Homo sapiens: one gene and its partner. The protein of the gene in region 1 interacts with the protein of each later gene in a pairwise test. Each region holds a gene or a part of one and is shown on either strand. Other genes may lie near its edges.

Region 1 (3,834 bases):
GCTGTCCTTCCAGGACTCAACAAGAAGAACACCTGGGTATGTCACACCACATTCAGGAAAGCCCAAAGCTATGGCTTCTCCTCAAGTATTTATAGTTCATTCACAATCCTCCCAGCTCAGATGCACTTTACCAATCAAGGGTTATGTTTACCACAGGCAATGCTGTAAGGTCACACAGCTGTCATTCCACCTTTCATAGATTGCAGAGAGAGTGCTGGAAGATCACCAGGAGGCCATTTTCACAGAAGACAGGAGAAGGAGTTTACTAACCCTTTGCTCACACACACTAAGGCACAACACCATAAAATTTCAGAATGTTGGGAATAAAGAAAACAACCTAAAACCTTCCAGATTTTTGTTTTTAAAAAGTCTTATTCAAAGTTTTAGTAATTAGAATGGCTTCATACCTTTCAACAACAGCTACAGAACCTAGAAGTCACTGGAGGAATATCTTCAAAATTCCAAGGAAAAATAGTTTCTAAAATAGAAATGCAAATCTACATAAACTATTAATCAAGCTTAAAGGCAGATCTCTCAGAGATGCAGAGACTTAGAAAATTTTCTTTAGTGGACCATTTCTCCGAAACTTCTGCAGAACCCCCATCCCCACCACACCAAACAAAGTAGTAATCCAAGAAAGAGTTGCAAATCCAAGAAATAGGAGATCTCTCATAGGGAAGAAGCAATATCTCAGAATGGTAATGAGAGATTTCAGGATGTTCAGCAGGCCTAAAGAGCTTATCATAGAGCAGTATGATGAGGGAATTATCCAGGGGAAAGAAGAAATTTATATTTCTGTCAAAGGATTTGGAGGTGAATTACTGATTGGATATTAAAAAAACTAAGGAAACAAACAAAAAAATCATAGAATAACCCTGGGGTAAAAGAGGGATTTAAGCACAGAAAAACCACTCTAACTGAGCTATGACCTGTCTTTACTATGCTGGGAGAATGGGAAGGGGGAAATGGACGTACATTGGGAAGGAGGGTGTTGGCTTTCAGAAACTTTTGGTTTACTGATCTAACAGCCATTTCTAATTCCCTTTTCCTTTGTCTCCCCCACACACTATATTCCCTTGGCTGGAGAAAGGATAATTACCCCCTTCCCAAGCTTCTCTGGTAGCTATGGGTGACCAAGAAACTGTTCAAGTCAATGACCTGTAATCAGGAGTTTAGTAAGGGTTTCTGGGAAAACTTTTACTTTCCTTACTGAACAAGTAGATTTGGCTGTCATCCCCTTTACTTTCTTTTTGTCTTGGACATGGATTGATGCCTAGAGCTGCAACAGTCACAAGTGCAAACATGAATCAACAAACAAAACATGGTAAGGATGGTGGAACAGAAAGAAAGAGCATGAGTGACATGACATGGATGAGCCACTGCGCTGACTCTGAACAGCCTGCCTCTAAGACTTATTAAATGAAAGCTCAGTCAGGTTTTCTGTTATTTACAGCTGAACACATAAAAAATTCTTAACTAATACACGGTAGATGAGGGTTACATACTCATTCTCTGTAGTAGGAAGTCAATACATGATGTCTAAAGATTTAAAAACCAAGAAATAACATGTTGAAGCATGTTATTTACTTGGAAACATGACAGTAAGCACCTGAAGAAATAGCTAAAAGAATGAAAACTGGATGCCACTGAGGAGTGGAAATTGAGGAAAGGTGGGGCTGGCGACTGCTATTTTTCTTTTTCTTCTTTTTTGAGACAGGGTCTTGCTCTGCTGCAAGACTGCAGTGCAGTGGTGTGATTACAGCTCACTACAGCCTGGACTTCTTGGGCTCAAGCAATCCTCCCACTTCAGCCTCCCATGCAGCTGGGACCACAGGCATGTGCCACCATGCCTGGCTAATTTTTAATTTATTTTTATTTTAGCAGAAATGGTGGTCTCCCTATGTTTCCCAGGCTGCACTATTTATTTATTGTAAGCCTTATAGTAGGGTCTCTCAACATCAGCACTACCAACATTTTGGGCCATATAATTCTTTGTTGTGTGGGGCTGTCCTATGCATTGTCTATCAGTGTTTCTGGCCTCTACCCATTAGATGTCAGTAGCAATCCCCCTTTTCCCCAACTGTGACAACCAAAAATGTTTCTGACCATTGCCAAATGACCCTGCAGGGCAAAACTGCCTTTGGTTAAGAACCACTGCCTTATAGTGCTAATTTTTTTTAACTTTTAATAATACTGTAAATGTACAATTTTCATAAAATTAACTATGGGTAAAGAGATAGTATGAAAGAAGCTAGACGGAATGTCATTTCACCTTTCAAACACCTCTCACTCTCCTTTCACTGACCTTTCCCTAAGCCTAAGAATCCCACTCCTTCCCTCCCAGCCAAGCACAGACAGAGCAGACACTTACCACCTAGAAATGCACACTCATAATGGCTGCAGGTCTTGTTTATGCTTTGAAGGATAAGGTTATTGCCAGCCCCCTCCTGTGACACTTGAAAAACCTCATTCAGAGGTATTAAAGTAATTCTTTCACTTTCTTTATCAAGAAAATTTTCAATGTCAACTCCAAGGCATGTGTAGATGGATAACACAGTGAGCTGGTCATTAGCAGCCTGAGGTTTGGCTGAATATGCCAAGGTAAAATGGCCAAACCTGGCTTGGTTTAGCCCTCCAAATGTAAATGAAGTGCCCTGGCTTGTTCTATATACCACAGTTTTGGAACTGGCCTCACAAGGTTTTCTCAGCAACTGCAGGGCTCTTGTGAGGTAAAAGTGGAAAGCTTTGAACTGGAAGCCATAGATATAATCTTCTCGAGATTGGCCAGCCATCTTCACAGCTTCACTGAACAGATGGTAAAAGGGAGTTTGCTCTTGAGCTTCGGAAATATATGCCATCAGGGCTATTCCATGGTTATCCTTAAAATTCATAGGGAGAAAGATTTGAGTCTTTCGGGCTGCCCATTTGGCTTTTGCATTTTCCCACACAGTATCTAATTGCTGGTGGCTTGCTTTTTCCTCCTTTAGCAGTTGGGGAACGTATTTAATTTCCATCCTGTCCGTACATTTCAGGTATTCATCATCAAATGCATTATCTGCCATGTCTAACACTTCAGCCTTCACCTTCAAAGGAAAAAGAAATTAATACTCTTGAAATAAGAAATTCAGTGAATATCATTTTCTCTCACATTATTACCCCCACCTTCTCATCCCTTGCCAAAATTCTCGCCTGACTTATAACCAATTTTGGGTAGGTTTTTATGCAGGAAGTATATTCCATTGCTATTGATAACTTTTCTCAGCTGTGCCATATTTGTGTGAAAGAGTAAATGTCAGTGGGTGAGAGGTATGGGTGAGATTGTGCCTGTAGCTCATTTATCTGGACATTATGGCACAGAGCAAAGAACAATGGATGTGAAGCTAAAGAAATGGGTGGCAGTCCTGGCTTTGAACATCTTAGCTAGATTTCTTCAACCCTTCAAGGCTGTTGGGAATTTGAAGTATCATATGCAAAATATTATTCATGATCTATAACACATAATGACAAACATTACCCTTTTCCTTTGGGGTTGCCCCCTCCCTTGTCCATATGGCCTGGGTAGAAATGATTTTGCACCTCCTGGATAAGCAGGTGATCTAAAGTCTAGCAATCAGAGCTCCCAGAGGAAAAAAATGGATCTTTCTTCCTCTAAAGCTGTAAGCTCTAAGGATAATATTGGCCTAGGGCTTCCAACAGTTATTCTTTAGTCCCATGGAGAATTCTGTCTTAAAATAAAGCAACAAATAAGGCTTGCTGAGCTGAGAGGTAGAGATGAGGACCCGAAAACATACTTTAGACGCTGGGCCTAACTGTACTCTTCACCAGTTGTAAGAA
Region 2 (2,580 bases), on another chromosome or scaffold:
ACTCTCAGAAATAAATCACAGATGCATATAGACACACATACATAATGGTACTCCCAAACTGACAATTTTACCTATTCTGAAAAAGACATAAAACAGAATTTGGTAGCACTTACCTCTACAGACACCTGCTAATAAATTATTTTCTGTCAAAAGAAAAAACACAAGCATGTGTGAGAGACAGTTTGGAAAAATCATGGTCAACATTCCCATTTTCATAGATCACAATGTAAATCACTATAATTACAAATTGGTGTTAAATCCTTTGGGTTATCCACTGCCTTAAAATTATACCTATTTCATGTTTAAAAAGATATCAATCAGAATTGGAGTTTTTAACAGTGGTCATTATCAAAGCTGTGTTATTTTCCACAGAATATAGAATATATATTTTTTTCGTGTGTGTTTTTGTTAACTACCCTACAGATATTGAATGCACCTTGAGATAATTTAGTGTTTTTAACTGATACATAATTTATCAAGCAGTACATGAAAGTGTAATAATAAAATGTCTATGTATCTTTAGTTACATTCAAATTTGTAACTTTATAAACATGTTTTATGCTTGAGGAAATTTTTAAGGTGGTAGTATAAATGGAAACTTTTTGAAGTAGACCAGATATGGGCTACTTGTGACTAGACTTTTAAACTTTGCTCTTTCAAGCAGAAGCCTGGTTTCTGGGAGAACACTGCACAGCGATTTCTTTCCCAGGATTTACACAACTTTAAAGGGAAGATAAATGAACATCAGATTTCTAGGTATAGAACTATGTTATTGAAAGGAAAAGGAAAACTGGTGTTTGTTTCTTAGACTCATGAAATAAAAAATTATGAAGGCAATGAAAAATAAATTGAAAATTAAAGTCAGATGAGAATAGGAATAATACTTTGCCACTTCTGCATTATTTAGAAACATACGTTATTGTACATTTGTAAACCATTTACTGTCTGGGCAATAGTGACTCCGTTTAATAAAAGCTTCCGTAGTGCATTGGTATGGATTAAATGCATAAAATATTCTTAGACTCGATGCTGTATAAAATATTATGGGAAAAAAAGAAAATACGTTATTTTGCCTCTAAACTTTTATTGAAGTTTTATTTGGCAGGAAAAAAAATTGAATCTTGGTCAACATTTAAACCAAAGTAAAAGGGGAAAAACCAAAGTTATTTGTTTTGCATGGCTAAGCCATTCTGTTATCTCTGTAAATACTGTGATTTCTTTTTTATTTTCTCTTTAGAATTTTGTTAAAGAAATTCTAAAATTTTTAAACACCTGCTCTCCACAATAAATCACAAACACTAAAATAAAATTACTTCCATATAAATATTATTTTCTCTTTTGGTGTGGGAGATCAAAGGTTTAAAGTCTAACTTCTAAGATATATTTGCAGAAAGAAGCAACATGACAATAGAGAGAGTTATGCTACAATTATTTCTTGGTTTCCACTTGCAATGGTTAATTAAGTCCAAAAACAGCTGTCAGAACCTCGAGAGCAGAACATGAGAAACTCAGAGCTCTGGACCGAAAGCAGAAAGTTTGCCGGGAAAAAAAAAGACAACATTATTACCATCGATTCAGTGCCTGGATAAAGAGGAAAGCTTACTTGTTTAATGGCAGCCACATGCACGAAGATGCTAAGAAGAAAAAGAATTCCAAATCCTCAACTTTTGAGGTTTCGGCTCTCCAATTTAACTCTTTGGCAACAGGAAACAGGTTTTGCAAGTTCAAGGTTCACTCCCTATATGTGATTATAGGAATTGTTTGTGGAAATGGATTAACATACCCGTCTATGCCTAAAAGATAATAAAACTGAAATATGTCTTCACAGGTCTCCCACAGCTGTCTGACTCTTGTCTAAAGTAGAATGTTCATGTGTGGAAAGTGATTGTCTTTATCAAATAGTGGAAAACTCACTGTGACTCTCCATCTTTCCAGAGAAGGAGTGCAGAAAAATAAAATTCACCATGCCTTCCTACTAGGTCAGGTGGGCTACCTTAGCTAGTCCCTAGATTTCACCAGTGATAGATTCTATAATGCATCTGTCTTCAAAGATAGGATCATACTTACTCTTGGGTGTCCCATGTAACTCTCCTAGGACCTTAATTACGAGAACATTTTCATATTTGTTCACTTCTGCCAATAACATTCTATTCAGATTGTCATTTGGAATTACCCAGGCCTGAACTTTCAGAAAATATATTCCCTCCAAAATAAGGTAAAGCCAGCTGTGTACATAAGAGAAGGAAATTAACATTTATTGAGCCCATACTATGTGCTAGGGTCATTCATACATTAACGCTTAACAGTTAACAGTTGTAAATAGTACTAAATATCCCCCTCATTTAACAGCTGAAAACCTGAGGTTTAGAGAAACTTCATAATTCCCAAATGCCGTTAGCTTCAAAGTAGATAAGTTGGGTATCAAACTAGATCTGAATCCTTGCCCCAACCTACGTACTTCCCTAAGTTCCTCTAAAGAATGCTCCTTTTCATAATATGTAAAATTGGAAAACGTTAATTGACACATGGACGGGTTATACCATTGATAAAAGGATTATTCTGAGATATTTAAATCATTCA

What was found.
Region 2: the proteins of ART3 (region 1) and ALCAM interact in a two-hybrid assay, tested with the Homo sapiens proteins (one large-scale study listed by BioGRID and IntAct).

Annotation. Positions count from the first base shown.
Region 1 is NC_000004.12:76,081,073-76,084,906, reverse strand, and holds part of ART3 (ecto-ADP-ribosyltransferase 3 isoform a precursor), read right to left. Parts: intron 3,084-3,834; coding exon 2,372-3,083; intron 1-2,371.
Region 2 is NC_000003.12:105,575,076-105,577,655, forward strand, and holds the end of ALCAM (CD166 antigen isoform 1 precursor), read left to right. Parts: 3' UTR 1-1,825; downstream 1,826-2,580. UniProt on the Homo sapiens protein: Cell adhesion molecule that mediates both heterotypic cell-cell contacts via its interaction with CD6, as well as homotypic cell-cell contacts. Promotes T-cell activation and proliferation via its interactions with CD6.